Linked DNA regions of Homo sapiens: regions 1, 2 and 3 are each linked to region 4. Evidence: fine-mapped expression QTL. A gene starts in region 4. Each other region holds a variant in brackets. All regions are shown on one strand. Distances are from middle to middle.

The links. PIP is the estimated chance that this variant, and not a neighbour inherited with it, causes the effect.
Region 1: its variant is the best candidate, but not a certain one, in a credible set for the expression of C8orf58 in whole blood (TOPMed, PIP 0.53).
Region 2: its variant is the best candidate, but not a certain one, in a credible set for the expression of C8orf58 in blood mononuclear cells (TOPMed, PIP 0.81).
Region 3: its variant is the best candidate, but not a certain one, in a credible set for the expression of C8orf58 in whole blood (INTERVAL, PIP 0.56).

The regions. Positions count from the first base shown.
Region 1 is chr8:22,640,771-22,648,302 of GRCh38, forward strand. BIN3 (bridging integrator 3) reads right to left here. Exons shown (of 9, transcript NM_018688.6): 2 at 3,985-4,033. BIN3-IT1 (BIN3 intronic transcript 1) reads right to left here and starts at 1,439. Exons shown (of 1, transcript NR_027715.1): 1 at 1-1,439. The variant G/T (reference allele first, on the strand shown) is at 5,221.
Region 2 is chr8:22,659,543-22,667,074 of GRCh38, forward strand. All of the region lies in intron 1 of BIN3 (bridging integrator 3), which reads right to left. Among named protein-coding and RNA genes, the nearest start is that of BIN3, 5.8 kb to the right of the region's middle. The variant T/C (reference allele first, on the strand shown) is at 3,627.
Region 3 is chr8:22,648,693-22,656,224 of GRCh38, forward strand. All of the region lies in intron 1 of BIN3 (bridging integrator 3), which reads right to left. Among named protein-coding and RNA genes, the nearest start is that of BIN3-IT1, 10 kb to the left of the region's middle. The variant T/G (reference allele first, on the strand shown) is at 2,398.
Region 4 is chr8:22,596,675-22,604,206 of GRCh38, forward strand. C8orf58 (chromosome 8 open reading frame 58) reads left to right here and starts at 2,925. Exons shown (of 7, transcript NM_001013842.3): 1 at 2,925-3,086; 2 at 4,208-4,683; 3 at 5,038-5,178; 4 at 5,298-5,406; 5 at 5,526-5,638; 6 at 5,863-5,969; 7 at 6,521-7,468. The coding sequence starts at 3,047. The coding sequence ends at 6,632. It overlaps LOC107986876 (a long non-coding RNA gene), which reads right to left. Exons shown (of 1, transcript NR_160769.1): 1 at 6,459-7,532. It also overlaps a transcript of PDLIM2 not described here. RefSeq lists enhancers at 428-1,175, 1,176-1,923, 4,612-5,489 and silencers at 2,310-2,369, 2,735-2,834, 2,865-3,324.

The DNA.
Region 1 (7,532 bases), 44 kb after region 4:
ACTGCTTGGACTTGTACCGGGAGGGACTTCAGGTTTTCAGCTAGGTTGATCATCCTGGAAGCTGAGGAACTTGAGGTCTCACAATGAAGCTGAGGAGAAGGTCAGGGGTGGGAGCGCGTTTTCTACTTGGTGCCGCTCAAGGCCATCTGACAGCCTGAGAGGAGTTTGGACACATTTCACCTCCCCTGCTTCCAGCGGCCGGGGTGGGTTGCTTCTCTAGCTCACTGGTCCGAGAGTTCTCTCCTCCACTGGGGAAAGATGCACGGGGACACTGCCAGAATTCTAGCCTCTCAGATAATGGCTAAGGGACTAAAGGGACACACTGGAGCCTCATTCCGAGGAAAAGAGCCAGACAGAAAAGATCTGAACATCTTTGAATGCTTGATGCCTTTGCCAAAAAGGCAATTGGACCCCAGTCAACAATGCAAGTATAAACACATGTGCACGGACCATCAGGGGATCAGGGCAAGCTGGGCCAGGCTGGCGAGGTTAGCTCAGGGAGAACCAAGCCCCAGACGACTACCCGTGGCCACCCCCTGCATTCATTCTCCAAGGCCCACGGTGGGAGGAAAGGGTTTTGCTGTTCCCTGCTCTTTTGGCAGTGCACAGGTCAGGCCCTGGCACAGAGTGGGAACTCAGTATGAAGTGAATGAACAGGCTGAGTTCCCACCCAAACTTATGCTCATGGTGAAGTGAAAAAGGAAACTGGCAGGCAGGGCTGGGGCACTGATCCCAGGGCTGAGGTGCATCTGATCGGAGTCTGAGAAGCCCAGAATCCTCAGCATTCTGGGAAGCCCCTCCTTCAAGGGATGCTCTGCGTGGAAAGTGGGCTCCCTGTAGGTATGTTCTAGCAGGATTAAGCAGGATTAACGAGGCTAAGGGCCCCGCCACCTGGCAGATGAAAATCCTTCTCCAGTGGAGAGGCTGCATGTGGCCAGACTCTCTTTGCCCTAACTTTGCAGAGCACCCACCTGGCTAGGAACCTTGGAGCGCATGTTCCTTGTGTGCAAGACTCACAGTAACCCTTGTTTCAGGGGGACACGAAGAGCAAAGCTTCGAAGAGCTCTTCCATCCTCCCAGGTTATGGAGGAAGGTGTGGCGGCTTCTTCCTACGCTACGATGCTCCCGCCACTTTATGGGACCTGGGGAGTGGGAGGGGACTGGGTGGAAGGTTAGGATCGGGATCGGGGGAGCTTTTGTTCCTCCATCTCAGTTCTAATGGTCAGCCCCAGCAGGAACAAGCCATTCTAGCCAAAGCCTTGACAATAATGGAATTTGTGTTAATAACCTGGGCACAGGAGAGCAGTGAGGGTAGGGACACAATGCTTTCTTTGTGCCTGACAGTTGGGTGCCTTGAGCCAAAAACCTCCTGAAACTCCCTGAAGATAACGTGAGCATTTCTTCCCATGACAGGGGCTCCATGACTTCCAATAACCCAGGCAGCCACAGCTGCTCCCCTCCCTGAAAGTGCCTGGGCAAGAACAACAGAGTGCGTCACTGCTGTTCAAGGGCAGCTGCCAGAGATGCTGAGACAACTGCACAGCCCAGGCCTGTTTTGGGGGCCGGGAGGGGGTGGTGGGTGGGGAATGAGACTGAAGAGGCAGGGTCTTACTACTTCTACTTCAGTGCCTCTGGGGAGTGGAGGGGTATAGGCCAGGGAAGCAAATAACTACTCCGAGCTGTAGCTCAGCTGTGATTCCTTGTGAGAGATCAAAGGCCCAGCCGACTTTTGTTGCGTTGGGAAATCTAGCTGCCTGGGACAGGCTGAGTCCCTGATGGTTCATAAAGAAGGTCAAATCAACCAGCTTCCTGTGATGTAGTTAACTGGGGACTTATTTTGTGCCAGACACTGTGTTAGGTGCCTTCAGTGTATTATCTTGTGTGAGCCTCAAAGTAACATCTGTGACACAGGTACTGTCATCATCCTGATTTTATAAACGAGAAAATGAAGGCTCCAGAGGTTAAGGAACTTGCCCAAGGTCAGAGACAGCATGTGGCAGGGCCAGGATGGGGACCCAGGCTGCCAGCCTCCCAAACCTAGTTTCTTAACCCCTACCTGACCCCCAGTCTATCAGAGAGCAGATGCCATAATCAGAGGACCACAATTCCATCTCCAGCGAGACAGATGCGAGGAAGGGAAGAGGGATGCCCTGTGTGCATCTGCCCGCACTGCGAGTCCTTGCCACTCCTTAGATCAACGGAGCCAGAGATCTTGCCACCAACACACTGGCAAAGCAGCTGGTTTGTCTACACTTTCTGTGGAGAACAAAGTTCATTTTGATAAAGGTTGGGGTGCTGGGAGGGTTTTTGTTTGTAGTGAGCATTCAGAATAAAAGAACCCTCTTGAAACCACTTCCCTTTCAGATCTGTCATGGATTAAACTCTGGAGACTCAAAGCCACACCTTCCCACTTCCTGCAGCCGGCTAGAGACCAACATATGCACACCCAGATTCTTTGGACTTCAGCTGAGAGCCTCCACAGATGGTCAGCCTCTGCATGAGAGGTCAGCGCTGAGTTGGTCAGCACCCTGCCTCTGCATGAAGCAGAGAGGCCCCACCCCCCAACTTTTTTTTTTAACAGACAGGGTCTCAGTCTATCACCTAGGGTGGAGTGCAGTGGTGCAATCAGAGCTCACTGTGGCCTCGAACTCGTGCGCTCAAGCAGTCCTCCTGCTTTAGCCTCCCAAGTAGCTGGGACTACAGGCGTGCATATTTTTTGGTAGAGTCGGGGTCTCTCTTTGTTGCCCAGGCTGGTCTCAAACTTCTTGCTTGAAATGATGCCCCCACGTTGGCCTTCCAAAGTGTTGGATTACAGGCGTAAGCCACTGGACCCTGTGAGGGTGCTTTTAACTTGGGCCTGTTTCCTCTCAAGTGACCTTACTCTGGATTTGCTAGAGATGGAGCCATTGGTCAGATGTGTGCCAAACTTCTCACCACACTGAAGCAATCTCTTTCCTGTACTTTTGAGAGCTCTGCCAAGGAGGGGAGAAGCTAGTAAGACAAGGAGAACCGTCAGGGGCTGGGATGACAGACGAGGGCCTCTGCCGCCAGCACAGCACCGGACTTCCTGTAGCTGTCACATCAGAGAGGCTCTACAGTTGTGGTCTCCCATGTTAAAACCAAGAGACCCACTCAGATTTGTGGGTCAGGAGGTTGAAAAGGCTATTTTGCACCGGGATTCCAAAACACTGGGAGGGCTTCACTGCCCAGGGAAGCATGAGGCAATGGAAAGAGTATCAGCCAGGGGCTCACGCCTGAGTTCTAACTCCAGCTTTGCCAGTGTGGGGTTTTTATAACTTGAGGAAGTCATTGCAACTTTCCACGGGCCTCATTTTCTTCATCAGGAAAAATCAGGAGGTTGGACTAGATGGTCTCTATGAGCTTCCAGCTCTAACTTCCTAAGAATCTATGATTCTCTTCCTTTCCCATTCTGGAGATAAAAACTTTCTAGGGATAAAAACTGTGGGCTTAAAGGGGGGTGGGATTCAATCTTCCTTTCCTGCTGAGTGACTCTGGGTCATGGCCAAGAATGCATTTGGAAGTTGACACAAACAGGCCGAGGCCACTGGGAAAAGCTTCCTGGAGTTTTCTGCAGCTGAGGTAACAGAAATAAATGCCTGGGCAGTGTCTTTGGTGGGGGCCACTCTTTCAGGAACACTCTTAGGAAAAGTATAGACCACAAGCCAGTCCCTAGAGGTGGACCGTTCTAAAGCAATATCTTCCTCTACATTTTTGTAATCCACCCATTCCCCCTGCCCAAGGATGATAAAGAGCCCAGGCTAACCTTTCCTAGGGGAAGTGTCCCAGGACAGGAGGCCCCTCTAAGCCTCAGTCTATGTGAGGTTCTAGATCCGCATAAGCAGGAAGAAGGCCCAGGTTGCTGTCTTCCCAGCCCCAAGATGTGTTGATTCAAAGCTTTGATTCTTATGCAAAGGCCATGTGATACAGAACTGAATCTCACAGCAAAACAATCGAGTTACTCACTGTTTTGGGCACAATCTGTTTCTTGGGCTGCCCAATCTTAAAAGGAATCCTATAAGAGAAAGAGACAAAGAGAGATATTGTGAGAAGTGGGGAAGGATGCAGCTCAAAGTATCAGTACAGTACAGGCCACTTTCCCCCAGGAGGGCGAGGAAGCGTGGCCATGGCTTGCTACTTGGACCATGTGCCCTGGTGGGCATACAACCATTGGCATCTGGGCTTGGTTCTAAGAGAGAGATAGGTCCTCCCACCTACAGTGTCAGATGCAGGTTGCTCTGCCCCAGAACATCTTTGCTACTGATAGTCTGTCATTTAAAGAAAATGAAAAGGTGAGGCCAAGGAGTTTGAGGCTGTAGTGACCTATAATTGCACCACTGTTCTCTAGCCTAAGCGACAGAGCAAGACCCTATCTCCAAAAAAAAAAAAAAAAATCCGCTGGGTATGGCAGCTCATACCTGCAATCCCAGCACTTTGGGAGGCCCAGGTGGAGGACTGCTTGAGCCAGGAGTTCAAGACTAGACTGGGCAATATAGCAAGATCCTATCTCAAAAAAAAAAACACAAAAAAACAACCACCAAAAATTAGCCGGGCGTGGTGGCACATGCCTGTAGTCCCAGTCACTTGAGAGGCTGAAGCAGGAGGATCACTTAAGCCCAGGAGTTTGAGGCTGCAGTGAATTATGATCATACCACTGCACCCTAGCCTGGGCAACAGAGGGAGACCCTGTCTTTTAAAGAGATAAAGGAAGGGAACAGAAGGGAAGAAAGGGGAAGGGGAGGGGGAGGAAAGGAAAGGAAAGGAAAGGAAAGGGGAAGAGAGGAAAGGCGAGGATGGCAGGAAAGGGAAGACACCCGCGAGGATGGCAGGAAAGGGAAGACACCCTGTGAATGACAATAAAACCTTGTGTCTTGAGGAGGTGCAAACTCAGAAATTACAGACTCACTGTAATAGCTATCATCCTTGAAATCACGAATCATTATGGTCTATATTAGGTGCTTTGCTACTTCTCTATAGAGGGGCAAACTTTGGATCTGCAAATCTTCTTTGGAGGCTGGGGAGAGTTAATAAATAACAGAGGCATTAGTGATTGGCCGGGCTGGATTATTTCCCTGGGAAAACTCACAAAATCAAAAAGCTGCTAACTTGGAAAATAATCTGAAATCCAGCCCAAGTCTGCCTTGGACTTGCTATGAAGAGCTGCACCTCAGATTCCCTACTTTACAGCATGGCACAGCGGAA[G/T]GAGGATCATGGGTCTAGGAGTCTCAACCTGAGCATTAGCCTGGCCTCCGCTTCCACTGAGCAGGCTGCCCTTCGGCAGGTGACGGCTGCACTGGGACTCCATTTCCTGCTGCATAAAACGAGTAGATTAAACTAGGTAATTTAGGAGCTTCCTTGAGGCACTGAGCATTCTATGATTCTCCAACTCCAGGAAGAAAAGAGGCCAGGCTAGAAAGTGCATCCCAATGGCTATGGAAAGGGTAGACTCCCGATCCCAGGTAGGAAGTGAGTCAAGAATCCCTGCGATCAGCTCCGGCAGAGGGCTCTCAGCCAGCCATGCTCATCCCTCTCCTTTTGGCTCTTCCATTCAAACCTCCCGTTTCCACAATGCACCAGACCCGCTCCACCAGGCCCACATCCCACCCTTCCCTCCACACCCCCTTCTCCCTGAGCCTGCTTTCCTTTGGCCCAAACTGACCAACACACTGTTGCTAAACCCAAGGGTGTAATTAACCACCGATAATGACCCCAAACAGTGATCCAGTGGAGGGGATGGGCCAGCCTGAGTCACAGTGGTTTAAATTTAATTTCTGGAGGACATCCTGTTTATTGTTAACCCAGCCCCATAATTTGGGAGTGTTAACCCTTTGGGGGCTGGCTGATTCGCATCTTCTGTAAACAAATAAATTCTGACTACATAATAACCAGGGAGGAAAGGTAAGGTCTGGAAATGAAAAGGAAAGAAAAAATGAAATTGTTGCTTCCTTTCTCAGACCTAAACAGAAAAGGTTCACGGGGAGATGGGTTCCTTCCCCACACCCTGGTTACTTTTCCCATTCTCAGGGATTACAGCTGACAGACAGGATGGTTTTTGGACAGTGAGCAATTGCCCTCAAGGACCATTCTGGAGACAGTGCAAATGAGGTCCTGGTGGCAAGGACCACTCTGGAGACATTGCAAATGAGGTCCCAGTGGCATTGCAGACAGACAGCCTGTATTCTGTGGGAAGCATGCTGCAGCTGAAAGCGCTCTCGACCCGGTATCAGAAAACGTGGCCTCTGCCTCCGACTCATTTTGTGATTTGAACAAATCTCAATCTCTCTGGAGCCCAGTTTCTTAAACTATAAAACAAAGGAGTTGGAATCCCTTCAGCTTATCTAAAACTGGAATTCTAAACTGAATCTCCACTCCAAGAATATGGGGAGTAGGATGAGAATTCTAAAGAAGTCTCAGAGTGGTCTTCAAAACGATTCTTGGAGTTTAGTACTGTAGACAAGGGACCAAGAATCAGAAACGTAGATTCCATTATTTGTGGTGTGACAGCCTCCCTCTAAACCTTAATTTAGTATCACGGTATTTTTAGAACTGTAAGTTACCATAGAAATTTTTTCCCCAGTTCAACCCTCTCCTTTTGTAGATGAGGAAGCAGATCCAGAAAGGTTCAGTGACAAGCCCAGGGTCACTCTGCTGGCTCACAAGAGAACAAGGAAGAAGCAACCAGCACCCCTGGTGTCCAGCCCAGTTTTCTCTCTGCTACCCACAGTTCAATACTCTTTTCACATGAATTTGTTATAAGTATGTGATGAAAACACCTAGTCTCAAAGTCCTACAGAATTCCAAGGGGCTCATTGTTCTTAAGGGTCTGGAAGTGAATGGGAGGACGTTCGTGCTGAACTGGGTGCTCTGGCACAATAAGAGGTTATGTACACCACGCAGACGGAACAGCTCTTTCCTTGTATTTTCACCACAGTTACTGATGATCACAGAGACCTATCATACTGTTCTGATTATTTTTCAACTCACCTGCTCAAAAGCCCTATTAGAACACTTTAAAAAAATCCTTCACATTTAAAAAGTTTTAAAGAAAAACTGTGAGGCCGGGCGTGGTGGCTCACACCTGTAATCCCAGCACTTTGGGAGGCCGAGGCGGGTGAATCACGAGGTCGGGAGATCGAGACCATCCTGGCTAACACGGTGAAACGCCGTCTCTACTATAAAAAATACAAAAAAAAAAAATTAGCTGGGCATGGTGGCGGGCACCTGTAGTCCCAGCTACTCAGGAGGCTGAGGCAGGAGAATGGCATGAGCCTGGGAGGCAGAGCTTGCAGTGAGCCGAGATTGCGCCACTACACTCCAGCCTGCGCGACAGAGTGAGACTCCGTCTCTCAAAAAAAAAAAAAAAAAAGGAAAAGAAAAATTGTGAAGGAAGTACATAATTCCTATGTTGCCCACCCTCAGTTTCCCCTTTTATTAACATCTGATATTGGTGTGGTACATTGGTCACAAACAATGAACCAACAGTGAGAGTCAAGACTATCCTTTCTTCAGACCTC
Region 2 (7,532 bases), 63 kb after region 4:
CTCATCAAAGCAACCACTTATTGAGCATCTACTATTGCCAGACTCTGCACAGGCACTGCTGATACATCCGTTTATTTGAAGTGTCCACTCCTGCACTTCACAGGAGAAACAGCGCAGTAGATCAGGGGATGGGCCCTGGAGCCAGACAGCTGGGGTTCAAAACCTCACTCTGCCTATTACCAGCTGTGAGACTCTGGGCAAGTGACCTCACCTTCCTGTGTCTCCGTCTCTTTATCTATAAAATAGGATGGAAAATAATTTACTCATCTTCTAGGGTCGCTATGAAGGTTAAACGAGTTTAATGCTTAAAACAGATCTTGACACACAGTAAGCAGTCTGTTTTTTTGCGAAGGTAGTAGTGGTATTTTGATGACGACGACCAACCAGGTCCAGAAGGGGTGACTTGTAAGAAGTTACAGAGATTAAGTATACTCACCCCCCAAGAATGGTTAGGAAACCTGAAATTATTTTTTTGTTTTGGGGGCAAACAGCTGTCCCATACCGTGATGCACCACCACCAGGCCCAAGTGATAAGTCTGCCTAAATTTGAGTGGCAACTTCCCCCCAAATAGTGAAAGGATTTTGACAAAAGTGTGGAGGCCGACAGAGCACCTAAGAGAGGAAGGCAGGCAACTCAAGGAGGCAAGTTTGGATTTTCTTTGCAGCCCCTTAAGAAGATCCTAATATCTGACAGACAAGTAATCACCGATTCTCATTCTAGTCTGTAAGGTAAGAAGGGGTAGAAAATGGGTTTGCATTTGGAGGTGAAAGGCTTGTCCTGCGGACTCCGCAAGGAGAGCACCTCTACTGGCCTCATCTCCATTCCGATGGGCTGACAGTGGCTTAGACTCTGAGAGCACCAGACCGGCTGTTTAGCTTCTGAGGTACCATCTTTAATCTCACCTTTGCTCCTGTCTCTTACCAATCAGCAATTATAAAGAGCTCTCACACTACCTTTTTCCTCTTCTCTGCTGAAAGTTTGGCCCCTAGAAAGCAAGAGGTAGAAGGAAGATGGCTGGATGGAAACTGACTTCTAGGCCCCCTCCCTACATCGTCCCCATCCCGTGGGGCAGGGGCGGGGGGCGCGGGCAAACGTTCTCTTGCTATGGAAAGTGAGGTCTGCCCCAGCAATGGTTTAAAAATTAAAAAAATATGAAATATTGTAAATACACAAAAAATACAGGGAATATATAATAAATACTCATGTATCCACCACTTGGCTTTGTCAAATTCTAACGAAGCCATGCTTGCTTTAGATATTATTATTTAAGCAACAAAACAGTACAGATGCTGTTCAGGCTCCCTGAGTATCGCACCCTGAGATTGTATTTCTTTCTTTTCTTTTTTAACTTAGTTTTTTTGAGACAGGGTTTCCCTCTGTATCCAGGCTGAGGTGCAGTGGTGTGATCATAGCTCGCCGCAACCTTGAATTCCTGGGCTCCAGCAGTCCACCTGCCTCAGCCTGCTGAGTGCTGGGACTACAGGCTTGCACCACTACCCCTGGCTAATTTTTAATTTTCTTTTTGTAGAGACAGTCTCACTACGCTCCCCAGGTTAGTCTCCATCTCCTGGACTCAAGCGATCCTCCCGCCTTGGCCTCCCAAAGTGCTGGGATTATAGGCATGAGCCACCTCGACTGGCCCCTGAGATTCCATTTCCTTCTCTCCTTGTTATCCTAGAGTAACCACTATTCTAAATTTAGTACTATTCCCATACTTTTACTGTATAAGTTTAAGTCCATATGCAAAATATAGTATTGCCTTATAGGTCTAATGTTTACATAAATAGTACAATGTTGAATGTATCATTCTTTTTTTTTTTTTTTTTTTTTTTGAGATGGAGTCTCGCTCTATCACCCAGGCTGGAATGCAGTGGCATGATCTTGGCTCACTGCAACCTCCGCCTCCTGGGCTGAAGTGATTCTCCTGCCTCAGCCTCCCTAGTAGCTTGGATTACAGGCGTGCACCACCACGCCTGGCTAATCTTTGTATTTTTAGTAGAGATGGGGTTTCACCATGTTGGCCAGGCTGGTCTTGAACTCCTGACCTCAAGTGATCTGCTTGCCTTGACCTCCCAGAGTGTTGGGATTACAGGTGTCAGCCACCGTGCCCAGCCTACAATGTTGAGTGTATCACTCTTATTTATTTGAATGTATCATTCTGAAGCTAGCTTTTTACATTCAGCATTACATTCTTGAGATTTGCCCACACTGGTACATACAGCTCTATTTTACCCATTTTAACTACTACATATATATACATTTTTTTTGAGACAGTCTCACTTTGTTGCCCAGGCTGGAGTGCAGTGGCATGATCTCAGCTCACTGCAATCTCCACCTCCCAGGTTCAAACGATTCTCCTGCCTCAGCCTCTTGAGTAGCGGGGATTACAGGTATGCACCACCACCATGCCCGGCTAATTTTTGTATTTTTTAGTAGAGACGGGGTTTCACCATGTTGGTGAGGCTGGTCTTGAACTCCTGACCTCAACTGATCTGCCCGCCTCTGCCTCCCAAAGCGCTGGGATTACAGGCGTGAGCCAACACGCCCGGCCCATAACATATCATCATGTAAAGACATCACAATTTATTTCCCCATTCTCCAGAGGCTGGGCATCTGCACATGACGATGCCCCTCACACTCCTGGCATGTGTCCCCTGCTGCATGGAGGTATGGGAGTTTCTCTAGGGTAGGGGACAGCCACTGTTCCAACTCCAAAATCTCCAATATACACCCCCTCCTGCAGTGTATGTGAATTCCTACTATTCCTCACCCTCAGATACTTGGCATTGTCAGGCTTTAAAATTTCTGCCAGTCTGATGGCTGTGAAACAGCATCTCATTGTTGGTTTAATCTGTTTTTCCTGATTACTAATAGGACCAAACATCTTTACATGAGCTTTTGTTCACTTGGGTTTTCTTTTCTGGAAAGCAATTGACAGTTTTCAAATCTATGGAATAAGTTCTTATAAAGAACTCAGCCAGTGTTCTTTACAGCTGCCCCTTCTGTTATTTTTTATTAACCCAGTGAAACAACCAAATACACAAGTAACCCTATCTTCAGTTGCTGGAGTCAAAGGTGTTAGCTTATCGTCTGAGTATTTGTAATGATACTCTTAGACAGATGGTTTTCAAACTTGAGGTCTTTGCAGAACATCTATCACTCAAAGGTCATTTAAACTGCTACACAGTCTTCCATTATATACATAGATCAAAATCAGTCATGAAATTAAAAAATCATATGCACTCACCTCAGGAAGAAAAAAAGAAAAAAAAAGTCAACTGAGGTGGGTCATTCTTTAAAAAAACAAACAAGGCTGGCCGCGGTGGCTCATGCTTGTAATCCCAGCACTTTGGGAGGCCAAGACGGGTGGATTACTTGAATCCAGAGGTTAGAAACCAGCCTGGCTAACATAGCGAAACTCAGTCTCTACTAAAAAATGGTGGTGCATGCCTGTAATCCCAGCTATCTGGGAGGCTGAGGCACGAGAATCGCTTCAACCCGGGAAGTAGAGGTTGCAGTGAGCTGAGATGGCACCACTGCACTCCAGCCTGGGCAACAGGGCAAGAGCCTGTCTCAAAAAACGAAAAACCATGAACAAGAACATAATAGAAAATATCAGAGTGCA[T/C]TGCACACATACTGTGTCAAACTTTTATTTCAAGTATAAGTGTGTGTGTGTGTGTGTGTGTGAGTTGTGATATCAAAGGTATTTCTAACTGTGAGTTGTGTTCAAAAAATTGTGGAAACTAGTCCAGGTGTGGTGGCTAACACTTATAGTCCCAGCCACTCAGGAGGCTAAGGCAGAAGGATTGCCTGGGCCCAGGAGTTTGAGACTGTGGTGAGCTGTAATTGCACTACTGCACTCCAGCCTGGGCAACAGTGAGACCCCCCGATTTGTTTAAAAAAAAAAAAAAAAAAAAAAGGAAACTATTGTCCAAGTTAGCATCCTTGGCTCCATTTTTTCTCTTCTGAGTTATCCTGCAGGCCACTGCCAAAATAATCTGACTAAATCATTGCTTTGGCCATGCCACTTCCCTGCTCAAAAGCCTTCAATTTCCAAAAGCCTAGGCTCAATTTCAAGTCCTCAGCATGGCACTGAAAGCACTATATAACGTGGCCCTGAGGTGGAGTGCCAATTCTCCCCAATGCAGCCTCTACCCAAACCACTACTTACCACCTCCAAGCTGGCCTCCTGACAGTCCGCACAAACACTCTTGACGCATTCTGACTCCACACACCTTTTTCATGCCATGCTTCTTACCTGGATCCTTCTCTCCCTCCCACTGAAACAGCACGTATTTGCTAAGTCAAGGTTCAGTTAAAATTACATCTGCTTCAAGTCTTTCTTGATGATGCCATACTGACATTTAGTGATCGGCTGTCCTTTTGAATCCCTAGCACTTTCCATACACCGGCTGAAGATAGAGATCGACTCATGCAAGTCTTTTAAATGTTCCTCAACATTTAGCACAGACTTTTGCACATTATAAATGTTGAACAAGCATTAAATCAACAAATATTTGTTGAGCACCATGTATGTGCATCACACTATACTGGGCCCTATTTGATGGATTAGCCACCAAAATCATGAGTTTGGGAAAACAATTCTAATAGGTTTAACAGCTGACTCTAAAGCTTACTCCGACAGATTTCCTTAAAGAGTATAATACATATAACACCTCTGACTAAGTAGCTGTGGGACTCAAGACACTTGACTCTTTCTGACTGCTCCAAGATCTGGAAGAAATCCTTCTCCTCTCATTAAACGCCTGAAATAAGAGCAAGCTCACATACAGAATCTCACAGACATTTTATAGGGCCCCTGTCTTCAAGGCATTACTATGCTCTCCACAGAGGAAGAAAAGCTTGGTGTGTCCAAAGTCACAGAGGACATGAGTGATGAGGCTGCCTTAGGCAGGGGCCCCATAGGTGGAAGAAGCTGAGCCAGTTACAGAACACCTAGAGGTCTGCAGGACACAAGGACTTCCTCTATCACTTATGTGTGAAGACTGTCAACTCCCTGTGATTCACTACCAACCTGCTAGTGTCAACACACCTTAGCAAAGTGAAACTCCGTGATCCAATCAGCTTGGGAATGGTCTGCTACTCTTCTAATATTCCTGATCATGGGGACAGAATACTCAGGAGACACATTTTAGTTCTAGTTCTTCCAGGTACTAGCTGAGTGAATTCTAGTAAGTTACCAAGGGGGATCATAAGACTGCACTGCTTGCGCAGACATAAGCATGAAGTCAGACAAAGGACGGGAAAGCCATCTGAAAAGTTAGAAGCACTCTACACATGTGAGACAGCAACGGTAATCATAGGGGAAAGGACTTCACTGAGAAAAAAACTGAATAATGGTTTTGTTTGACCCAGAAGTTTACCTTCTTTATATTCCATTCATTTAACAATTACCTGTTAGATACCCACTATGTGCATGATACCCACTATGCGTACAAAAAGATGAAGAAGCTCTATGTCGCTCCTGTTCTCATGGGGTTGGTGTGGAAGGGAGGTGTACGTCTGTGATACTCAGAAGGATGCAGAAGTGCTACAGGAGAAGCACTATGGAAGTACAGAAGAAACCCAGCAAAGCACTTTGGAGTGGAGGATCAGAAGGAGTGGGGAGGAGAAATCACAGGCAGCCTGACCTGGAAGCCACTTGTGTCGGTCAATTTAACAATAGTACTTTCAGAGGCTCTTCATTTTAGGAAGTGGTTTGTAGGTTCTGCAAGTTTTTATCTTAACATTTTTCCTGAGCTGAGGCAAGTCAGGAAAAGGGAAAAAAGGCCCCATTCATATATTTAATAAACACTTCCTGACTGCCAGGAACAGTGCTAGGGAATAGCAATGACCACAAGACAGTCCCCATACTCAAGAACTCACAGACAAGTAAACCAGCCAGCGGAGTACAGATGCTGATGAAGGTCAGAAGAGCGGCACCCAGTGCAGCATGGCAGGGTGTGAGGGGCCACTCAGGGAAGACCCTCAGAGAAGGTGAAGCGTGGCCTGACTCTTGAAGGATGAGTAGATGCTGGCCTAGTGGACAGGGTGTGAGTGAAGGGGAAACATTTCAGGCAGAAGGGACAGTTATCCAGAGGCACATGGGCACGAGAGAGCAGGAGAAGCTTGGAGGATGGAACACACGGAGTGAAGATGGACAGCCAGGCCCAGAGGGCCTCAGAAGCCCTGGCCCAGAGTTGGGCCTCTATCCTGAAGATGATGGCAAGGGACTACAGGGTGAAAACAGGAAAGAAACAAAAAGGATCAAACATGAGGAACACCAAAGTGTGAAGGGCAGACAGAGGTAGAAGACCCCGGAAGAGTCAGAAAAATATCACTCCACTCATTTCACAGCAGGCTCAGGTGGCAAATTGTCAGCAGGAATGGCCACTCCATGCTACAGATGGAGAAACTAAGACAGAGAACAGCTCAATGCTTGACCAGGCCGCACTGTGAGTGGCTGAGCCAGAACCTGAACGCAGCACTCTAACTCCTACTCACACTTACCTGCTCTGCCTCTAATTTCCTTCCTTTTTGTCAAACTACTGGACCCCTAGGTATAGGGAGATTTCTTCCAGTACTCCCTTTTCCTCCTCGTTTAAGCCTAAAATCATCAAGGTGTATGGTTCAACAGGAGGCTACAATTCCTGGAGCCAGCTTAGATTGAGGTCACTATTCTTAATTCTACTTAATCCTCTCTCCATACCATAATAAAGCCACCTGAGTATACACTGGAAGATGGGGAAGAGAGACAGGAAGGGGAAAAGGGAGACAAGAGGGAGACAGAAATAGGGAGGGAGGGGGTGAGTGGGGAGGAGAGGAGAGAAAGTTGGGAGGGGGGCAAATGGCGGGGGGAGGTGGGGTGGACAATGGGAGAGAAAAAGAGAGCGAGAGAGAGAGAAGCATTTGGCTTGAGGCCAAGAAGTGAATCTGTGATCTGAGATGTGAATATCAAATGCCTTCTTCCTAGTAGGACAGACCACCGGGTCACTTTTCTGAAAGGCAGATGGGTGTATGGGGAGTGGATGGGTAGATGGTGCAGGAAGGCAGCAGGTACCCACTAAACAAACAGGGGGTGGGCGGGTTGCCTGCACAGAGGAAGCAGAGAACAAAGGCCTCTCACTCTTCATGCAAAGTCCACAGTGTGCAAAGGGCATCAATATTGGACATTTCTCACTGTGACATTTTGAAAGCTCAGCCTAGCCCAGAACAATGGTTACCCTCTGGGGACCATGGGCCATGTGCCTTATTTAATGATGGCTTGGCACAGCCCATGTACTTGGTGAACTTGACCTTGGGCATCAGCCTCCCATGATGGCTCTACGTCACTCTGGTCTCTTCCCCTAATGAGAATTCCAGTCTCACATGAATGGATGGATTCATTCTGGGGGCAGGAAAACCACTCAGGGAGTGAATCAGAAGGACCCAGCCCCGGTCTCCTTGCCAGCCATTGAGCTAGGAACTGAGTGTGATTGTGTGCCCAGGCGCCGGTGCTGTTCCCGTCTTTGAGAGACAGGGTCAGGGTCCA
Region 3 (7,532 bases), 52 kb after region 4:
GCACTCCTTGGGAGGAAGCCATCATGCAGAATCCTATTTCTTATTTATTCAACCATTCAATATCAGTATGGACTCACAGATATTTATCTTATATTTTGGGTTATAATCTAATACATTATTTTGATGCTCAAACTGTTCCAGCTTTCACCACTGGCAGCTCTTTCAGTTGGCTTCTGTGTCCCTTTGACATATCCACATCAACGTATGTATGTATGTATGTATGTATGTATGTATGTATGTATGTATGTAAGTGTGTGTGTGTATTTCCTTACTTTCCAGCTCTACGACATGTACCAAGTGCATCTTGTACATTTCCTGCCTCAGCCCTAGAATCAGTGGAGGAACTTACATTAGTATTCAATGTGCTTCTGTAATATGTTCTCAACCTTACTTTTCCTATTCACTCAGTACAACTGCCATGATTCAGCCAAGTGGCTGTTCATTAATCCCCCAAATCTAGACTCCTTATAATTTCCTGTCCCAAACTGGGACATTTTGGAGTACACGTCATCAGGACAACTTGGACTGCCCAGGGCAACCAGGACAAATGGCTACCCCACCTATATGGAATGCTTTCTCTGCTCCCAGGAAAACTTCTCACCTTCTTCTAAACGTCAAAGACTTATTTGGCATTTAAAAAATTCTACCCTTTACAGTTAATTACAGTTTATCTCCTTAAAAAGTAAAGTATTCACACGAGAAACAGTAACTTTAAAACAACTATTACAGAAAAACGTGCTCATTGCAGAACACTTGAGAAATAAAAGGGGATGGGGTGGGTGGGGGTATAAGGGAGGAAAAGGAGAGGGAAAAACCCAGCCACGATTCCGCATCTAAAAGATGGCCAAGGTTAATGTTTCAGTGTTGCTATTTATATTTTTTAAATTTACAGTAAGAAAAACTGAAGCAAATATGCCAAATGTTGGTAGTGGCTAATTCTGGGTGGTGAGAATATGATTACTGTTTTCTTCTTTGCACTTTCCACATTTTTCTTTCAAATAAACCAAAAACAAAAACAAAAACAAACAAACAAAAAAACACCCTTGTTTTTTTCTTGACTACAAAAATAGCACCTGATCAGTGTTAAAAACCTGGAAGAGATAGAAAAACGCAAAGGACAACACACACACACACACACACACACACACACACACACACACACACACCCCCAAAGGAAAAAATTAACAGTAATATCCTGAATCACAGTGTGTACATGTGTGTGTGCATGTGCATATGTAAATTTTATATAATTTTTAAATTAATAAGTAAAAGAAATATCATGAATGGTTTTATATGAGAATATATCATTTTCACTCTCCTGATTTTTAAGAGCTACGGAAGTAAAATGAGTGGTTCAGGTATATAATGGAAATGTACCACTCGTTTTATTTCTGTAACCTCATCACTTACTGCTGGTCATTGCAACCGTTTCAAATTTTTCTTCTATTATGAACAAAAACTCCAATAGGTAAATCTTGGTGTGCACTAAGAGTCATACAGGATCAATTCTGTATACTGTGTTCAAGGCTTTGACACATTTTGACAAACTGCCCTAGAGACAGATTGAAACATTTAACATTTTTGAAAAGATTGAAACAGTTTACATTTTACTAACCACACTTTGGTTTGTATATCAGGATTTTTTTCTTGGATTAGTGTTTGCCTTTCACTTTTGTACATGCTTGTGTTTAATGTACAGAAGCTTTTGATTAGTGTGAAATCAAATCTACTAAATCCGCCTTTTGTGAGTTCTTCTTTTGGTATCAAACTGAGGATGACCTGCTTCCTCCACTCCATCAACTTGCAACTATTTACCTATATTTACTTTATTACTTTTATGGCTTCCTTTTGTTAATCTAAATTCTATCATTAGTATCAAAGTTATAGTGTGCACAGTCTAATAAGGCAACAAGATTTCTTAAGTAAAACGTTAGTTCCCAGGACTCCCTAATCTCATTTGCCAGAAACAACCACTTTCAACTCAACTGAGTTTCTAGTATTTACCTTTGCACATCTAAAGATAAATGCTTATACTGCTACCTCTAGATCGTTAGGTTTTTAGGCACTAAAAATCTACTTTAGCTATTGACTTTTTACTTCGGAAGATGAAGATTTAAAATTAAACAAACAAAATATTTTTGGGTACCCATCGCTATTTCATGAAGCCACACTTGCAGCTCTTCTTCTCAATATAGTTACAGTATAATAACTTGGTTAGCTCAATATTAAGTAAACTATTAGGAGGATATTGTGAGTTTTCTTCCATCCTGCCCTTGGGAGCCAGCAGATTGTTCAGCCTCAGTCAAAGCTTTAGGGCATAGCAGTTGTAGCCGATGTACTGAGTCACAAACTCGTAAGAGTTTCCAAGTCAAAGCTCCAGCTATGCCACTCCCAAAT[T/G]CCTGACCAACAGAAACTATTTGTTTCCAGCCACTAAGTTGTGGGATAATGTGTCACGCAGCAGTAATACATAAATAACATGCATACTTTTTTTTTAACTTTCCCTAAAATTGGTAATTGTCACTTTTCTTTCATTTGCTTGTCTACGTACTTATCCCCAATTCAATCTGTGGTCTAACTCTGGTTTCAACACATTCATCGTTATCAGGTGTTCTCTCCTTTGCATCTTCCGGACAGTCTGCCCTGCAACTGCTGCCTCGCTCCAACCTGGACTGGCTGCCTGCTCCCCAGCCGTGAGGCTCTCAGCACCAGCTGTCCCTTCACCAATCTTTCTGGGATTCCTTTGACTTCTCTTTCATGATTTTTCCCTGATCCTCCTCTTTCTTCATTTACCCCTTATTTTGGTGGGAACAAAGTATGTGGGAGGTCACTTTTGAGACTGCACATCCTAAAACCTTGTTCTTCTACCTGCAGGCTAATTTGGGCATAGAATTAAAGGCTGGACATAATTTCTGCCAGAATTTCAAAGGCATTGCTCCCCTGTCTTCTAACTTCCCAGTACTGCTGCTGTGGGAAAGTCTGAAGCCACTCTGATTCCCATCCTTTGTATATAACCTGTTTTTTATTTTCTTACACAATCTTATAGGAATATATGTTTGTCACGGTGTTGTATAATTTTACAACAATGTGGGTCTATTTTCATCCACTGTGGTGGGTACTCACAGGACTGTTTCAATTTGGCAATTTATAATCTTCGGTTCTGAGATTTTAAAAATTTTGTTGTTGATTTCTTGTTTTCTGTTTCTTACTTCTGAAACTTACAATTTCGATGCTGACCCTCCTTGGCTGGTCCTCTAATTTCTGTTTCTCAATTTCATCTTCTAACGCTTCTACCAAGTTTTTTTTTTTTTTCATTTCTGCTATCAGATTTTTAATTTCTAAGAGCTCTTTTAAATTTTCAGGATGTCCTTTTAAAATGGTATCTTATTTTTATTTCATGGATGCCTTATCTCTCTGAGGATCTTAACAACAGCTTTAATTAAAAAGTTTCTTCTTCCCTTTATAGTTTCAGTTTTCCTCCAAGTTGCTTTTTTTCTTTTTGTTTAGTCTTTATTTTCCATACTAAGTGCTTTCCTTGGATGTGTGGTAATTCTTGGTTGCCTACTCTCATCTATGACTGGGAGACAAAAAGAGCTGACAAGAAGCTCTGAGCACACGAACCATGTTTATCTACTGGGTAGGACAATCTGCAAACTGGCTGAACAGTTTTGTGGGGAACTCCCTGATGTCACTATCTTTCTACTCTTTTCTCTTGGGCAGGTAAAATTCCTTAGAGAAGATTCTTCCAACCTTCTGCCATTCTGGGAACTCGGCAATGGAAGAGCCTGCGTGTGCATGTATGTGTACACATGTGTGCATGTGCGCATGTGTGGTGGGGAGGGGAAGGGGTGTGCCTTGGCACTCTGAGGGTGTGCGTTCACTTCATCCTCCCGACTTCACTAGGGCAGTCCCACCCTCAGCTGTGCTGGCTGCCCTCTCAGAGGCGGGTTTGAAGTTTATACAATTTTGTATGCCCCATTTCAAGAAAATTACAAATATACAAATAGGCATGAAAGTGAATATTTAGGCAGAGAAAAGAGCAAAACAAATGCGAAGTTTTAAAAGCTAATAAATGACACAAACATCAGGAAATAATCTAGTATTTTTATGAATCATCTGCCTAACACACCTCTATCTTTGTCTCCCTACATTTTTGGGCTGCTTAGTGTTTGGTTGCCTCTTCATGTGATGCAGAGTTGGTAGCATCATTTTCTTAGAGTAAAAAAGGTAATTCCCTCTTTCCTCTGGTATGGTTGTTCGAAATTTTTCTACTACTGATGGTTTAGAAGAGCCTTTTTCAGCTTACTGGTAATATCCAAATTTTAGGATTGTTGTAAAATTTAGAAAAATCTCATGTTTCCTCTGCAAATAAACTAAGATGTCAGGGCACATTTCAAGGTTTCTTGTACAGTGACTAATCTTAAGTGTTCTTTGAATTAATGACAGTGACCAGTTTGTCATTAATGTCTGTCTTTGAAGGAGGGCGTATTTTGAATTTTGTTATCTTTGTTATGTTTTTCATGTTAAATCCGCCAGAAATTTAAATGTTTTATCAGTGTGTTCCGCTGATTTGCTCCTCTTCTTCATTAACTGAGTTTTCTAACAATCATCACTCCTATTTAAAATGGATCTCGTTCTCTTAATGGATTACTCACTTTTGGTACAATTGGAAAATGTTTTGTTATGCTTTGCTATATTTCAGAATGATTTCTACATATTTAAGCACTCACCTTATCATTTTTGTGTTCCATTATTTTTAAATCCAATTTTCTCTCTAGTTTTTAAGTAAATTTAAAATTGACCACAAAAGGTAACCGTTACACATTTCCAACTCAGGAGCCTGTGATTTCTTGTTTTACTAACATTTTCCAAAGATGTCTTTACAACGTACAGTTAAAACAGTATACTCCCAATTCACCCTTCCTTAGTTCCATCCCCCAAAAAAGCCTGGGCTACCCCAGGATTGCCTGACATGAGGGATAGTATGAAGAAGTAAAAGCAGGAATGAAGACAGAGGTTTTCCTAACTCGCTGCAATGTAAACACTTTATGTTTCAGTTTACCACAACATAGGCATGCCTAGGGTTCCTTCCAGGGTCTTGGGAAAGGTCCATTTAAGTTGGGACCCTGAGGCTGAAGCTTTGTAAGTTTCACACCTTAAATCCACCTTTGTGTCCCCTGGTACAGAATTCTTTGGAGGTGGGGGTTGGGGTGTAGGACTCTTCATTCTTCTGCTAGGGTGGGGTGGGGTGGGGACAGTCTCCCAGTGATAAGCAGTTAGGGAGATGTTAGGGCTCTAAACTATTCATAGTTTTCAACCAATCACCCTGATCTCAGCCCTTGGCTTCACCTAACTTCTAGAGGTACTTAGTACCAACTCCCAAACCTTTGAGAATTCTGGGATGTAAGGTGGGATGGCTCTTGGTTTTCTCAAACGCCAGTTTGGGACTTGACTTTCTTGGAACTAAGTCAGTTACCTCATGTAACTGCACCCTAATTCCCAAATTTTGTTGTTGATGTCTCTTCTATTCTCCCTGAACTATGGATTTATGCCTTAAAAAACTGCTTTACTGTGCTTTTTGTAGGATTTGTGAGGGAGATAAATTAGATGTATGTATTCAATCTGTCATCTTTACTCAGAATCTGGTTTATTTTTAAATAACATACCATAACATTCACCCTTTTAAAGTGTACAATTTGGGGTTTTTAGTATATTCCCAGAATTGTGCAAAAATCACTGCTATCTAATTTCAGAACATTTTCATCACACCAAAAAGAAACCCCACACCTATTAGCAAACAACTCCCCTCCTCCAGCCCTGGCAACCATTACTTTGCCTTCTTTATGGATTTGCCTTTTCTGGACATTGCACAGAAGTAGAATTATATTTGTATGTGGCCTTTTGTGTCAGCCTCCTTCACTTAGCAAAATGTTTTTGAAGGTCATCCATGTCATAGCATATATCAGTACTTCATCCTTTTATTTTTTTAATCACTGAATACTAGTTCAGTGTATGGATTTATATTTTGTTTATCCACTTATCATTTGATGGACAATTGGGTTGTTTTCCCTTTTTGGGTATTAATGAATGCTGTGACAAACATTTATGTTCAAGATTTTGTGTGGATATGTTACTTCTCTTGGGCATATATCTAGGAGCAAAACTGCTGGGTCATATGGTCACTCTATGTTTAACCTTTTGAGGATGTGCCAGACTGTTTTCCAAAGTAATTGTATCATTTTACATTCCCACCAGTGGTATATAAGGGTTCCAATTTCTCCACATCCTTGCCAACACTGTCTTTTTCATTTTAGCCATCCTAGTGGGTATGAGGTAGTATTTCTGATGTGCATTTCTCTAATGACTAATGACGTTAAGCGTCTTTTCATGTGTTCATTTGTATATCTTTGGAGAAACATCTATTCAAATCCTTTGCTCATTCTAAAACTTTTATTATTATTGTTGTTGAGTTGTAAGAGTTCTTTATATATTCTGGGTATTAGCCCATAATCAGAAATATTTTCTCTCATCCATGGGCTGGGTTTCCACTTTCTTAATGGTGTCCTTTGAAGCAGAAAGTTTTAAATTTTGATGAAGTCCAATTTATCTGTTTTTTCTTTTGTTGTTCATGCTTTTGGTGTCATATGTAAGAATCCTTTGACAAATCCAAGGTCATGAAGATTTACTCTTGTCTTTTCTTCTAAGAGTTTTATAGTTTAGCTCTTACATTTAGGTCATTGATCCATTTTGAGTTAATTTTTAAATATGGTGTGAGGTAGGGGTCCAACTTCATTCCTTGGCAAGTGGCTATCCATTTGTCCCAGCACTGTTTGTTGAAGATTATTCTTTTTCCGCTGAACTGTTCTGGCATCTTTGTTACAAATCAATTGTCCATATATGTAAGGGTTTATTTCAATTCTATTCCATTCATCTACATGTCCATCTTGATAACAGCACCACACAACCTTCATTACTGTAGCTTTGTAGTATTAAGACTGGGGAGTGTGAGTTCTCCAGCTTTGTTCTTTGTCAAGATCATTTTGACTATTGTGTGTCCCTTGCATTTCCACGTGAATTTTAGTGGTTTATTTTTTATATTTAAATCTTTGCTGCATTTAGAGTTTGAGTGTATGACTAGTCCATTGTTTTAACATAGTTTTTAAAAATTCCACCTTTGAAAAGTTATTTTATCAGCATTAAATGCATCTACTATTCCATACCACAGAGTAATCTACCCTTTTGCCAATAACACAGATTTATTTAGATGTATAAAAGTTCCTGATACTTAGCAAAGCAAATCCCTTCTCATTAAAAATTTTTTTCCAGGTAATTTCTTGGCTGTTTTAATTATTCAAGATAAATTTCACTAGCTGTGTGCTCTCACCCCCACACCTAAAAACCCCTGATAAGGATATTACCAGAAGTGCAATATATTTATAGATTAACTTTTGAAGATCCTATTTTTGGTTTGCTCATTCAGGGCCATATTTCTTTTCATTCATTCAAGCCTTTTTATCTCCCTTGGTCTTAAGGGT
Region 4 (7,532 bases):
ATCTGGTACAACCCCCTTTGGTTAGAGAAGGGAAAGTGACTTTTCCAAAGCTGCACAGCTAGACAGTCATAATGGCTAAGCTCTGGGGGTGCTTTTGATGTGCTAGGGATACTTCCAATGCTTTAACTCACTTAATCCTCACAACCCGAGATAGGTACTGTTACCATCCTCTCTGCAGACGAGGAAACCGAGGACCAGGAGGTTCAGTAAATGGTCCAAGTACTCCTAGCTAGTAAGGAATGGATCTACAGCCTGCCTCCCAGGTTTCTGGCTTGTGGGGGGCAGAGTTTGTCCCTCTGTCATCAGAGGCAGCCTTCCAGGCACAGCTCTGGTCACCTCTGGTCACAACTGGAGGTCACCACAGCCCTCCCCAGCGCTCTGTAGGCTCTCAGCTTTGTGCTTCCTCCCACGGGTACTAGCTCCAGCTGAGCTTGCAGGAAACCCACTTCCTGAAGCCAGGACTTCCCCATGGGAAGTGCAGGGGCCACTGGGCAGCCTGAGGGCTGACCCTGCTCAGGACACTGTCTGTCTCAGGAACTCATGGCAGTGGTTTACCTTGTCAGGAGTGCATGGACGGGCTGCCCCTCCCATTCCTTCAAGCATCACTCAGAGAGCCCTGGCCTGGCTCTAGGCTTGGGACTGCGGCTGCCACAGGAAGGGGGCATCCCCCTACTTTGGGTGTTGGGTCAGATCCTGCCCCCGTGCCCGCCAGGGCTCAGGTTCCTCTGAGCTGGTCCTGGGCCAGGACGCATCTGCATGGCGGTGGTGGGGAGGAGGGGTGCGCCATGGCCTGGAGGGGAGTGTGTGTTGGGGTGTGTGTGTGGAGGTTCTTTTGAGTCACACACAAAGCATTGTGCTGAGACACTGCATTCCTGCTGGCTGGGCTTCCTGTTTCCAGATGCATTCCTGTCCCAGAGTCACCACAGAGACTGTTTGGAATCCCGCCCCACATTCTCCAAATTCAGGGCGCGATCTGGCAAAGGCTCCCTCCCCCACCCTCTTACTTTGGAGGGAGTCTGGGCTCCCTCCTACCCAGGGAGGGCTGGCAGGGCTCTGGCACGGCCGGGGTGTGATTCCACACATCTTCTTGGTCTTGCATAAGGCAGTTCCTGGAGACCCAGCACTCTGGTTCTCTCTCTGCCTGTGAGAAGCGGAATGGGTACTGTCTAGGAGGACTGGGCAGGGTGGGGGCAACCCAGAGGACCCATGGCTAGCAGGGAAGGGCCTGGGCTTGAATGTGACTCTGTTGAGACATGGCCAGCAATTCTGGCACTTGGCTGTCATTCGGCTGGCCTGCGCAGAGATTGGCTGTGGGCCTCAGTTTCCCCATTTTATAAAGTTTTAAAATCTGATAGTTTGTGGCTCTCTGATAAAGGCTCCTGCAGTGGGTGTTTGGGGACTGGTTCCAGAAAGGAGCAAAGGGAAGGGGATGCACAGACTGTCTTACCCCTCCCGGTAAACAGCCACTTCCTTCCAGTGGCTCTGGCTCCAGCCTCTCCCCTCCCCTAGAGGTCCAGGTGCTAGTCTGCACGTCCTCCAGCTCCCTTATCTGCCTCCGGGGGATTTGGGTCCTGCTGGGATTTTTCCAGCCCTGCCCCCTCCCTCTGGAGGAGGTGCCTTCTTTAGAGGACACCAGCCCCAGTCTGGTCACCAGGCTCTCTCTCATCTTCAGTAGCTTCTTGGGCTCCTTTTAGGTTGGGGACTGAGGGGTGGAATCCCACGGGCCAAAGGCAGGGTGAGGTGGGAACAGGGGGACATTTACACTTTGGCCCAGTCTCCAGGCGGCTCCCCGCTGGCTCGCATCTTTCCAGACCTTGAGACCTACCCAGTCCCCAGCTTTAGGGAGCCCGGGATGAGAAAGAGGCAGGGGACCGGGAGGGGGTTCAGATCTAGCTGAGGACACACGCGCGTTCTGCAGTTGTAAAAGATTTCCCGGTGGGCAGGATCGTTTCCCCTCCCATCGCCCAGGTTTCCGAGCGGCCAAGAGACTGGCCCCCAAGCCACACTGCTAGGGAGCGCCGGGTGCCCGCGTCCTGGTCAGCGCTCTTCCCACCGCCAGCACGTGGGGCTCCCATTTCCTTCCTGGCTCTTGTCCGGTCCTCCAGCCAGCCCCGGCTCTAAGTCCGCGGCAGGAAGACGGACGCTGCGTGTGAACCCGCGGGGCCGGGCGGACCGGCGCCCCGAGCCAGACGGCGTCCCCAGGCGGGGGCCGGGTCCTCGCAGAACAGCTGATCGGGACCCTTATTTTGGCCACAGCCACAGTTGGGGGCGCCACCCAGTCCGTGCCTTCGACCTCGTTCTTGGCGACCCGGCCACCTGCGCCCCCCACCTGGCACCCTTGCCTTCCCTCCTCTCGCCCCTCCCCTCCCTCCTCTCGCCCCTCCCCTCTCCTCTCCCCTCCCCTCCCTCTCCTCTCCCCTCCCCTCCCTCTCCTCTCCCCTTTCCCTCTCCCCTCTCCTCTCCTCCCCTCTCCCCTCTCCTTTCCTCCCCTCTCCCCTCTCCCCTCCCTCTCCTCTGCCCACCCTCTCCTCGCCCCTCCCCTCTCCCCTCCCTCTCCCCTCCCCACCCTCTCCTCTCCCCTCCCCTCGCCCTCCTCTTCCTCGCCCCTCCCCTCCCTCTCCTCGCCCCTCCCCTCCCTCTCCTTTCCCCTCCCTCGCCTCGTTCCTCTCATCCCTCGTCTTGCCCCGCCCCTTTCTCCTCGCCCCCTTCTCCTCGCCCCTCCCCCTTCCCCTCGCCCCTCCCCTCCTCTCGCCGCTCCCCTACCTTGCCTCGCCCCTCCCCTCCCTCGTCTCGCCCCTCCCCTCTCTCCTCGCCCCTCCCTTCCTCGTCTCGCTCTTCCTCTCTCCTCCCCCTAGGCCACGCCCCCCACCGCCCCGCCCCCCGCCCCCCCAGCCCCGCTCCCCGCCCCCCCAGCCCCGCTGGGAGTGTCTGGGGGCCGCGCCCAGCTGGGTCGGGACGCGCTCCCTGAGCTGCCCGAGCTCCGCGGGGACTCGGGCCGGGATCCTCGGGCGGCTGCATTGGCCGGGGCCGGGGCCGGGAGCGGGCCATGATGGGCCGGCGGCGCGCCTTCGCCGTGGACGGCCGGGGTGAGTCACCCACCCCCAGGCTGGCCGGGCTCCCCCCTGCCCCGGAGCCGCTTCCCGCCCCCAAGCCGGGCACCCTCTCTCAGTTTCTTGCCCAGCCCCGCGCACCCCGCGGGCGGAGCCCGCGCCGCTGCGCCTCCCTCGCCGCCTCCCTGGAGGGGCGGTCATCAGGGGACGCCATGCAGGCTGGAACCCCTTTGGGCCCAGGCGTTAAACCAGCCACCGCCTCCGCCCCACTTCCTCCGGCTCCGCTTCCCTCGCCTTCCCGCTCCTTCTGAGGATGTGGGAATCCGCCCGCGCCCCAGCCCCCTCCGTGGCTGCGGACCCCTCTCCCACCCAGTGACCTCCTGGCCCACTTCCTTGCCCAGAGGGGCCTGGGTTGGCATTCGGCTCCCGCGTGCCCCGCAGCTCGTCCCCGCCCCCCTAGCCTGTTTCCCGTACCGTTCATTCCGCCAGGACGCCCCGTCGCCAGAGGGCCTGGCGGAGGTGACAGTGAGGGGGTGCTAATGCTGCCCCTTCGTCCCTTTCTTTCACTTCAGTTCTTTCATTTTAAACTTTTCATAAAATCTTCACTATTGCTCACTTACAACAAAAGCCCAAATCGGTTATAGCGGTGATTTTTATCACTCTCCCGGTGAGCTGCAGGAGAGACTTCACCTGGCATCCTGATGCCGCAGGGGCCCCCAGAGAGCAGGTTGGATCCCAGGCTTTCCTCTCTGTACCCTCTCCCCTCTCCCTGAAGCTGGATACAGTCCTACTCCCGCTTGGGGAGCAGCGGAAGAGCCTGTGGCTCCCTACTTCTGACTCGGGAGATCGTGGGCTGATCCTAGGTGGGAAGCGCAGGCGCAGGCCGTCTAAGGGATTGATGGATGTGGCCTGCCAGGGCTTTGCCTACCACACAGCTCAGAGCACGGGTTCCCTGTCGCTAACAACCGTTGCGAAGGGAATCCCATCCACACATCTCCCAGACAGCTGGGGCCATATCCGGGCTGCCCGTGGCTGTCCAGTGACCGCCCTTCCTCACTGCTCCGGGACACTTCTCCCTGGGGCAGTGCTGCCAGCCTTCAGGAATGCTGGGGGTGTTGGGGGTGGCCTGCCCAGCCTGACGCTGACTCTCCATGCAGATGGGGCTGGCGAGGGCCTGGCACGGGGCTGCATAGTGCCTGGAGTCACCAGCACCTACAGACGGATCCCCGACGCTGCCCACGGGTGCTCATCCTGGGAGAGAGGTGACAAGTTCAGAGGTGTCGGCAGGGAGGCACTCTTTCTCAAACTGGCCTCCCGGGACTCAGGAGTGGAGATGGCAGTTGGGGACAGCCCCCTGGCCGCCTTACCGGGCCTTTCTCAGGACTCCCTGGACTTTGAATCCTCAGGGAGTTCTGAGCCCCCCGCCCAGGTAGGCCGACTCCTGGCCAGCCAGAAGCTGGGGGAGGTGTTGGAGCGGTCCCGCCGGCTCCCAACAGCTCCCACCAGCTTGTCAGGACAACACCGCTCCCTGCGGCTGGCAAGCAAGCCTGAGCGTGAAGTGCCCCTTGGAGCAGGGCAACAGGAGTCCATGGAGGCAGACACAGACCTAGAGGCAGGCCTGGAAGAAGAGGCGGTGAGTGCTCACTCTCAGGCTGGGTTTAAGAGTGGGATGGACAGCCTAGCTCCTCTGGTTCTCCCTGGAGCTCTCTCTGGGTGGGGCACTCCCTGCCCCTAATTGATGGGTTGTGTCATAGGTTCTTTCTGCACCCCAGTTCCATTTGTGCACGGCCACCTCTGCAGAGGAGGTGGGCAGCTACGGGGGCCCTTCCTGGCACTATGCCCCGCTGGGCAGTGGGGAAGCCGGCTGCGTGTGTTCCTCCTCGGGGCCCACTCTGCTCCCATCTGCTGGCTGAGCCCAGCCTGGCTGCTTAGGGTAGGGCAGGAGCCCTACTGGCTGAAATCTCCCCTATCTCACAATGTCCCACAGGTGGGGGGCCTGGGGCCTGGAGCCTGGGCCTGCCTCCCCGGGCAGGGTCTTCGCTATCTGGAACACCTGTGCCTGGTGCTGGAGCAGATGGCAAGGCTCCAGCAGCTCTACCTGCAGCTGCGGATCCAGAGGCCCCCAGGGGTGAGTGAGATTCGAGTGGGGGAGGGAGAGGACAGATGGGACCCTGGGAACCATGGCTGCCCTCAGAGCAGCTTCAGCCCTCTAGCCAGGCCCTGATCACCTGTCTCTCCTGTGCATAGGATCCCGGCGAGGAGGAGTCGACCCGAGCCCCTTTACCGTCCCCGTTACACACCCCAGGCAATCGGGGGCAGGGGCCATGGGAGCTGCTAAGCCAGACAGAGCACACAGGTGAGGGGCCATCGTGTCTCCCTTTGTCCTGCCTGCCTGGGGTCCCACCAGCAGGTCCTCTGAGCCGAAGCTTGATGGGGTGTCTTCTGGCCCTGGCCAACCTGACTGTCTTTCTGAAGGAGCAAAGGCTGCTTCACCCCCAAAGGTGGAGGTGCCCAGTGCCAACCCTCCCAGGCTGCCAGAAACCCCAGTGGAGCCAACGTACCACTTGCCATCCTCCCAGGGACACAAGGTAGGGGACAGGTATATGTGGGGCAGGTGGTGGGCTGGGGTGGGGGGAGGGGAGGTGGGGGATGCATGGGCACCCTGGGGGCCAGCAACTCTGGGGAAATGACAGGATTGATTCCTGTTTGGAGCAGGCGACTTGTCCTGGCTGTGGCGACAGCTGTCTCTGGGAGCTTGGTCGGGGGTCTGAGTGTGGGGAGGGCTCTGGGTGACCCCTCATCCTCTGCTCAGCGGGATATCTCCCACTGGGACAAGGTCAAGGTCCTGCTCAACCGGATCTGCCGGAGAAGCCACCACCACCCTGAGCCCCCTGCCCCTCCTGATGGCTCTGACCCCAGGTGAGCCCCGTGCCCAGCCCAGGTTAGGGCACGGAGAGGAGACTGATAAGCCAGGATGCTGAGATTGTCATGCCAGTTGTCATTATTGTCCCCGCAAAACTTGAGAGGCAGTCTGGGAGGGGCTGCTAGAAGAAACAGTAGTTAAAACACCCCATTTACAGATAAGGAGGCAGGGTTCTGGGTGGGGTTGGGGGTAGTTGCTTTTCCAAAGCCGCACGGTGAGTCAGTGACAGCTAGGACCAGAATGTGGGAAATCTGCCTACCCTAGCTCAGCAACCCCTCACCCTCAATGCTGACATTTAGGCCACCTTCCAGGTTCGTGGGGAGAGCAAGGTGGAGCACAAAGGATTTCACAGTGGGTGAAGGCCATCATGCTTCGGGGCTTGTATTGAATCGTTCTCCAGGAGGAAGAAATACCAAGTCATTTAACAGCCCCGGGCTGCGCCCACACCCAGCTACCCACCAGCAGATAAACCACGTTCTCTCAACTCTAGGGCCATTGTTAGTTTTATTTCCCCCTTCTAGCCTAATGTCTTCTTTTCATTCCACAGGATCGAGTCCAGGGACCTCCCTGAAAGGCCTCAGTGCCGCCCCCACCGGAAGACCTTTATGCCATCATTAGTGGTTAAGAAGCAACGAGCAAAAAACCTTTCTGTAGGCTGAGACCTCTCGGTGCACCTGGTGACCCTGGGTGGAGGGGACTTGCTGTGAAGTCTTCCTCGCCCTCTGCCCTCTTGCTGCTTCTCCACATTGCCAGGAAAAGCTGCTGACGCCTGCCCTCCTCTCTTGAGTCGAGGGCTGAATCTTTCTCCTCTAAGCAGTCTGGTCAGGAACCTTGGTTTCTTGAGAGGCCCCCAAGATGCCGCAGCTCCAGGGCTCTTCCTCCTCACCAGAAATCCCTGGGCTTCCACAATGTGAACTCACTCATTGTCAGGTGTCCGTGGAGTGTTTTTGGCATGGTGACCTGTCTGGGCCCAGCATGTTGCAGATGTGTATTTATGCGCAATGGTATGCATATCTCTGTGTGACTGTCAGTGTTGCAAGCTGGCTGGATCCAACCATCTCTTCTGAAATAATGCATCCAAAGGGTTGATATTCTGGGGGAGGTCACTGCAGAAGGATGGAACTGACCTTTATTCCCCAGTGGGCAGTTACTGAGCTTTCCTCCTCAGAGCCATGCTGGCAGCCCTGGGACAGAGAACGGTGTGGCTTTGGCTGCCTCTGCATGGAATCTTGCCCCGGACTCCTGAAGACTGCACAAGGAATGAGGAAGATCAGGGACAACCTGGGAACTGAATAACTTTCAAAGCCAGTGCTCAGCTTCTCTGCTCCGTACTAGCGTTTACAGGTCTTAATTCAAACCAGATGCCTGTACTAGTTTTTAGACCCCAAGTCAACCTTTCTGAGCCACAGCTTCCCGCTGGGAATAATGATGCCTGCCCTATCTACCTCACAGACTTGTTATGAGGATAAAGTGAGATTAAACTGCCTCAAAGTGCTTTGTAAACCTCAGGTGAATAGGAAAGGGGAAAGTAAGGCTGGAGTGATGATGGGGAGGTCGGA